Homo sapiens: one gene and its partner. The protein of the gene in region 1 interacts with the protein of each later gene in a pairwise test. Each region holds a gene or a part of one and is shown on either strand. Other genes may lie near its edges. The genes, in order: SLAMF6 and SH2D1B.

What was found.
Region 2: the proteins of SLAMF6 (region 1) and SH2D1B interact in binary tests that used the Homo sapiens proteins (3 or more experiments, as listed by UniProt).

Annotation. Positions count from the first base shown.
Region 1 is NC_000001.11:160,513,208-160,517,027, reverse strand, and holds part of SLAMF6 (SLAM family member 6 isoform 1 precursor), read left to right. Parts: intron 1-3,820. UniProt on the Homo sapiens protein: Self-ligand receptor of the signaling lymphocytic activation molecule (SLAM) family.
Region 2 is NC_000001.11:162,394,857-162,398,676, reverse strand, and holds the end of SH2D1B (SH2 domain-containing protein 1B), read left to right. Parts: intron 1-1,361; coding exon 1,362-1,397; 3' UTR 1,398-3,409; downstream 3,410-3,820. UniProt on the Homo sapiens protein: Cytoplasmic adapter regulating receptors of the signaling lymphocytic activation molecule (SLAM) family such as CD84, SLAMF1, LY9 and CD244. In SLAM signaling seems to cooperate with SH2D1A/SAP.

The DNA of each region.
Region 1 (3,820 bases):
TCAGTTTAACTAGATCCCATTTGTCAATTTTTGCTTTTGTTGCAATTGCTTTCAGTGATTTCATAATGAAATCTTTGCCCATGCCTATGTCCTGAATGGCATTGCCTAGATTGTATTCTAGGGTTTTCATAGTTTTGAGTTTTACATTTAAGTCTTTAATCTATCTTGAGTTAATTTTTGTATAAGGTGTGAGGGAGGGGTCCAGTTTCAATTTTCTGCATATGGATAGCCAGTTCTCCCAGCACCAGTTATTAAATAGTGAATCCTTTCCCCATTGCTTGTTTTTGTCACGTTTTTTGAAGATCAGATAGTGGTAGATGTGCAGTCTTATTTATGGGTTCTCTATTCTGTTCCATTGGTCTATGTGTCTGTTTTGTACCAGTACCATGTACCGTGCTGTTTTGGTTATTGCTGCCTTATAGTATTGTTTGAAGTCCAGTAGCATGATGCCTCCAGCTTTGTTCCTTTTGCTTAGGATTGTCTTGGCTATATGAGCCCTTTTTTGGTTCCATATAAATTTTAAAATAGTTTTTTCTAATTTTGTGAAAAATGTCAATGATAGTTTAATGGGAATAGTAGTGAATCTATTAATTACTTCGGGCAGTATGGTCATTTTCATGATGTTGATTCTTCCTATCCATGAGCACAGAATATTTTTCCATTTGTTTGTGTCCTCTCTGGTTTCCTTGAGCAGTGGTTTGTAGTTCTTTTTGAAGAGGTTCCTTCACTTCCTTTGTTAGCTGTATTCCTAAGTATTTTATTCTCTTTGTAACAATTGTGAATGGGAGTTCATTCATGATTTGGTTCTCTGCTTGCCTGTGTGTGTTGTATAAGAATGCTTGTAACTTCTGCATTGATTTTGTTTCCTGAGATCTTGCTGAAGTTGCATGTGAGCTTAAGAAGCTTTTGGGCTGAGATGATGGGGTTTTCTAGATATAGGATCGTGTCATCTGCAAACAAAGATAATTTGACTTCCTCTCTTCCTGTGTGAATATGCTTTATTTCTTTCTCTTGCCTGATTGCCCTGGTCAGAACTTCTAATACTATGCTGAATAGGAGTGGTGAGAGAGGGCATCCTTGTCTTATGCTGGTTTTCACAAGAAATGCTTCCAGTTTTGCCCATTCAGTATAATATTGGTTGTTGGTTTGTCATAAATGTCTCTTATTGTTTTAAGATATGTTCCATCAATACCTGGTTTATTGAGAGTGTTTAACATGAAGGGATGTTGAATTTTATAGAAGGCCTTTTCTGTGTCTATTAAGATAATCTGTGGTTTTTGTCTTTAGATCTGTTTATGAGATGAATTACATTTATTGATTTGCATATGTTGAACCAGCCTTGCATCCCAGGAATAAAGCCAACTCGATCAGGGTGGATAAGCTTTTTGATGTGCCGCTATATTTGGTTTGCCAGTATTTTATTGAGAATTTTTGCATCAGTGTTCATCAGGATATTGGCCTGAAGCTTTCTTTTTTGTTGTATCTCTGCCAGGTTTTGGTATCAGGATGATACTGGCCTCATAAAATGAATTAGGGAAGGGTCCCTCCTTTTCAATTGTTTGGAATAGTTTCAGAAGAAATGGTGCCAGGTCCTCTTTGTACCTCTAGTAGAATTCAGCTGTAAATCCTTCTGGTCCTGGGCTTTTTCTTTTAGACTATTTATTACTGTCTCAATTTCAGAATTTGTTATTGGTCTATTCAGGGATTCAGCTTCCTCCTGGTTCAGTCTTGGGAGGGTGTATGTGTCCAGGAATTTATCCATTTCTTCTAGATTTTCTAGGTTATGTGCATAGAGGTGTTTATAGTATTCTCTGATGATTGTTTTTATTTCTGTGGGGTCAGTAGTGATATCCTCTTTTAACATTTTTTATTGTGTCCATTTGATTCTTCTCTCTTTTCTTCTTTGTTAGTCTAGCTAACTAGCAGTCTATCTATATTATTAGTTTTTCAAAAAACCAGATTCTGGACTCCTTGATTTTTTTGAAGCATTCTTCTTTTATCTATCTCCTTCAGTTCTGCTTTGATCTTGGTTATTTCTTGTCTTCTGCCAGCTTTGGAGTTTGTTTGCTCTTGGTTCTCCAGTTCTTTTAGTTTTAATGTTAGCATTTCAATTTGAGATCTTTCTAGGTTTTTGATGTGGGCATTTAGTGCTCTAAATTTCCCTCTTAACAGCTGCTTTAGCTGCATCCAGAGATTCTGATACATTGTCTCTTTGTTCTCATTGGTTTCAAAGAACTTCTTGCTTTCTGCCTTAATTTCATTATTTAACCAGGAGTCATGCAGGAGCAGGTTGTTCAATTTCTATGTAGCTATGTGATTTTGAGTGAGTTTCTTTGTCTTGAGTTCTAATTTGATTATGCTGTGGTCTGAGAGACTGTTTGTTGTGATTTCAGTTCTTTTGTATTTGATGAGGAGTGTTTTACTTCCAATTATGTGATCAATTTTAGAGTAAGTTCCATGTGGCAATGCATAGAATGAATATTCTGTTGTTGTAGGATGGAGAGTTTTGTAGAGGTCTATCAGGTCCACTTGATCTAGAGCTGAGTTCAAGTCCTGAATATCTTTGTTAATTTTCTGTCTGAATGATCTGCCTAATATTGACAGTGGATGTTAAAGTCTCCCGCTATTATTGTGTGGGAGTCTACATCTCCTTGTACGTCTCTAAGAGCTTATTTTAGGAATCTGCTTTTGTATTGGGTGCATACATATTTAGGATAGTTAGTTCTTCTTGTTGAATTGAACCCTTTACCATGCCTTTCTTTGTCTTTTTTGGTCTTTATTGCTTTAAAGTCTATTTTGTCAGAAACTAGGATTGCAATCCCTGCTTTTTTCTGGTTTCCATTTGCCTGGTAGATTTTCCTCTATCCCTTTATTTTGAACCTATGTGTGTGTTTGCATGTGAGATGAGTCTCTTGAATACAGCACACCAATGGGTCTTCACAATTTACCCAGCTTGCCATTCTGTGTCTTTTAAATGGGGCACTTAGCACATTTATATTTAAAGTTAGTATTGTTATGTGTGAATTTGATCCTGTCATCATGATACTAGCTAGTTATTTTGCAGACTTATTGATGTAGTTGCTTCACAGTTTCATTGGTCTTCATTGTGTACTTCAGTATGTTTTGTAGTGGCTGATAATGGCTTTTCCTTTCCATATTTAGTGCTTCCTTCAGGAGCTCTTGCAAGTCAAGCCTGGTGGTGGATGAATTCCCTCAGCATTTGATTGTCTGAAAAATATTTTATTTCTCCTTTGCTTATGAAGCTTCATTTGGCCAGATATGAGATTCTGGGTTGAAAATTCTTTTCTTTAAGAATGTTGAATATTGACCCCCAATCTCTTCTGGCTTGTAAAGTTTCTGCTGAGAGGCCTGATGTTATTCTGATGGGCTTCCCTTTGTAGGTGACTTGGCCTTTCTCTCTGGCTGCCCTTAACATTTTTTCCTTCATTTTGACCTTGAAGAATCTAATAATTATGTGTCTTGTGGTTGATCCTCTCATGGAGTATCTTACTGGGTTCTTTGTATTTCTTGAGTTTGAATGTTGGCCTGTCTTGCTAGGTTGGGGAAGTCTCCTGGATGATATCGTGAAGTATGTTTTCCAACTTTGTTTCATTCACCTGTCTCTTTCAGGTACCATAATCAGTTGTAGGTTCGGTCTCTTTACATAATCCCATAATTCTCAGAGATTTTGTTTGTTCCTTTTCATTCCTTTTTCTCTAATCTTGTCTGCCTATTTTATTTCAGCAAGATAGTCTTCAATCTCTTAAATTCTTTCCTCCACTTGGTCTATTCGGCTATTGATACTTATGATTGCATTGTG
Region 2 (3,820 bases), 1.9 Mb from region 1:
CAAATTCATTCTGTGACCTTGTGCAGACGATTCAAGTTTGAGAATAAATGGGCAAATGGGCAGATTTTCAAATGAGAAAATCACTCTAGCCCTTCAAGCCCTCCCCAAAGCGTATACTGTTACACTTTGCTCAATATTTGCTAAGCATTCATTTATAAAGTGCTGGGTGTCAAATTATGTCAGATACATTTTTAAAGGCATTAAGCCGTAGTGGAAAATGAGAGATGGTCAGTAAATCTGAGTGCAGAGAATCCCTGCCTAAGCCTCTCAAATTATATCATGAGCAGCTACTCTTCCTTACCCACACTCTTGAAATCTGCTCTCAGTAAAGAATTTACTATCAGTTGCAATGTTGTTTGAATTTAGCTCAGACTTCCAGAAACACTTAGGTCTTAATCCTGTTTTCCCATGTTGGAATGTGTGGTTATATTCTCAGTGAAAGGGATGGCAGTTATCAGTGGCAGGTGATGGGATGAGATCAGATATCCTCCCTAGGAGAGGGACAGAGGACAGAGAGTTCTCTGGGAGCCTGCAATCACTCCATCCCCATTCTACTCTGTCTGCGGCAAAGTCACCCTTTAGGCTGCCATAGCCGGCTTCTCATTTCCCCAGCAAGGCTAAGCATAAAATACAACTCCCTTCCCTACCATTGTGTCCCTGTCCCCCCATCCCCATGAAGGGCAGTGTGTACTCATGGACACAAAAAAATCACTTTCTATAGGTCCAGCTGCAGATGTAGTCCCACAGCTACTTTCCCCCCCAAATTTATAGAATAAAAAGTATACAGTGTGGCAGATCTAGAAACCCAGGAATGTATCTGTGCTGCAGCCCTTAGGCAAACCCAGATGAGTTGCTGGGACTGGTTGGGGTGGTGGTAGCATTTGTCTCAACAATGAGAAAAGAATCATAAATCCCAGGAGGAGAACCCTCAGAAATCTTCCCCAAGACCTGGGCATGAATCTCACTCCATCAGTTTTCCATGCCGGGTCAGTGCTGACACAGCAGGCTCCAAAATTCTCAGCTACTGAAGAGGAAATATTCCCCATCAACCTCTTCCTCCCATTCCCATTGCTTCCTTAGAAGAAGCTTCAGATGTTCTTACTCCAAGGGAGGTGCAGATTTCTTGCTGGTGAATGGAGACACTTGTGCTGGAAGGTCTGAGGCTTGGCTTATAAAGAGATCTCCTATTTTGTTAGGAGGGCTCCCTGTAGTACCCCAGCCTTTAAAGATACAACTTTCAGGTGGCATCAACATGGCTCTGTGCCTGGGGAGGGGTCTTCTTTCCTTTGAGTGGGGTTGTTTGATATGACTTCTGGGTGTGGTCTCATGGCTGGTCTTCTGCTTTTTTTTTCCCTCCAAAGAACAGTAACAGCGATTATGTGGATGTCTTGCCTTGAAGATAAGGCTGCCGGACAAAGCAAGTTGAAGAGATGAGTAACAGTTCTCACTGATGACCCACTTCTGCAGGCATAGGTCCAGAGCACCAAACTCTAGTGGACAATTCAGACTCTCCTGGTTGTGTAACTGAAGATGTTCTGCCCACCAGCACCAGAGGTCACTCTCCACATCCCCGCCTCCCAGACATATACCAGGAGCAATTTCAAAACCCTCTCCAGTTTCACTCTTCTTTCTTGGAATGGGACAGCCTGAACATTTTCCCTTTGACTTGTTAAAGGTACCACCCTACATCATGGTTGACACCCTCCTTTGGACCATGCAGTCAGAGGGGCAGCTTTATACAGAGGAGGGGCACACTTGTCTGTGAGTTTGAAGCCCTGAGTTCCAGTCCTGTGGCTGTGTGACTTTGAACACGTTTCTGCCCATCTCCAGGTCTTAGTTTCTTTGTCTCTGTGGTTGGGTGGGATGATAAACATTGCCCCAGTCTCTCTGTTGAGCCTGCTTGTGTCAGGTGAAGGTGAGGGATCGGGAGTGATGGAGATGCATACAGATCAGCACCTTCTCTGTACCTGCTGGACCCCCATGTGCACCCTTCTCCCTCCAGCCTGGGCTACTCTCCTCCTGGTTCTTTCTAATCTTAAACTTCCTGGTGAGCATTGCCCCAGCCACACTTTCTCCCTGGTTTTGCTTAATTCCACTTATGCATCAGTCATTTCAACAGCATGAATGTGGTTCTGTACAGTGATGTATGTGGAGATTTCTAAAATATTCTATGTGTGATTTCTGTTCCCAACTAGGTTCTAAGTGCCATCAAAGCACGGTTGGGTCTCCCTTGTATCTTCCACAGTGTGTAGAAATTTGTGCTGCCCAGAGCTGTGCCTAGTTCATAGAAACTGACTGGAAGCACATTGCTGAGGGAGGTTTGTTGAATTGGTTTTTAAGGTTTACTGAAATTGATTTGCTGAATTTTTCTGCTAGTTCAAAATGTGAATTAGGACCTGGTCAGTTTGAAATATACCAAATTCTATGCCCTTTCTCTTACCTATCATCAAATTGTAGTAATGTATTTCACCCCACTGGACTTATCTTCAGAGTTTTAAAAGAGAGGAGCTCTCGACTTAGAGGTAATATGAACAGATGAACAGACACTGTGGCTGGAGCCCCAAAGTGTGGAGCATTGTGAGATTTGGGGTCACAGCAATTTATGGCTACTATTCCCTGGGTCTGGTAGGTAGGACAAATGTCCTCTTTTACTTTTCAAAACTGGCTTAGGTATTCATGGACCTTGATTCTTCTATATACATTTTATAATAAATACGTGAAATTGCTTAAAACCTCTTTTTGGAATTTTTAATGAACTTGCAACAAATTTGTAAATAGGAGAGAACTGACGTTCTTGTGATGTTTTCCCATGCATAAACATGCCACATCCATGTTCTTGGGTCATCTTTTTTGCCCTTTCATGGAGTCATAAATTTTCCCAACTGAAGTCTTGTATATTCTGTTAGATTAATTCCTATTTCTAGTTGCTGTAAATGATATCTTATGTTTTATTACATTTCTAATAGGATATGGTGTTGGTGAAATGTTAACCCTCTCATTAGATCTACTAGTTTACCTGTTGATTCTATTGTGTTTTCTATGTAAATGATTTTGTCAGCTATAAATAATAACATTTTATTTTCTCTTTCCTTGCAATACCTATGCTCATTTATTTTTTATGTTTACCCATTGGTTAGGGCCTCCTGTATACATTAAACAGTTCATAGTCATGATAGTGAGTATTCTTACACTGTTCCCAGTATTACAGGGAATGCTTAGAAATTTTCTTTATTTAAACATTATGTTTGTTGTAGCCTTGTTAAAGGCTATTTTATAATTTTTACTAGAAATATTTTGACATTTATTGTGATTTTTTTCTATCTCTAATCTATTGAGATAGTCACATTCCTTTTGTCTTCACTCCATTATAAAGGTAAGTTACCTTAATAAAATTGTTGATATCATTTCATCCTTGCATTGCTTCACTTGATAATATTTTATTATTTTTCATAAACTGTGGAATTTGGTAAGTTAATATTTCATTTAAGATTTTTGCATTAAAACTCATAAACCAAATAGGACTATAATTTACTGAATCATGGTTACACTGTTCATATAAAGCGAAGAAAAGTCTTTTTCCTTTTACCATTTTCTGCAACAACTCTTCAGGTAAAGATTATTTGTTCTGGGCTGGGTGTGGTGGCTCACACCTGTAATCCCAGCACTTTGGGAGGCCGAGGTGGGGGGATCACTTGAGGTCAGGAGCTCAAGATCAGCCTGGCCAACATGGTGAAACCCTGTCTCTACAAAAATACAAAAATGTAGCCAGGTGTGGTGGCACACGCCTATAATCCCAGCTACTTAGGAGGATGAGGTGGGA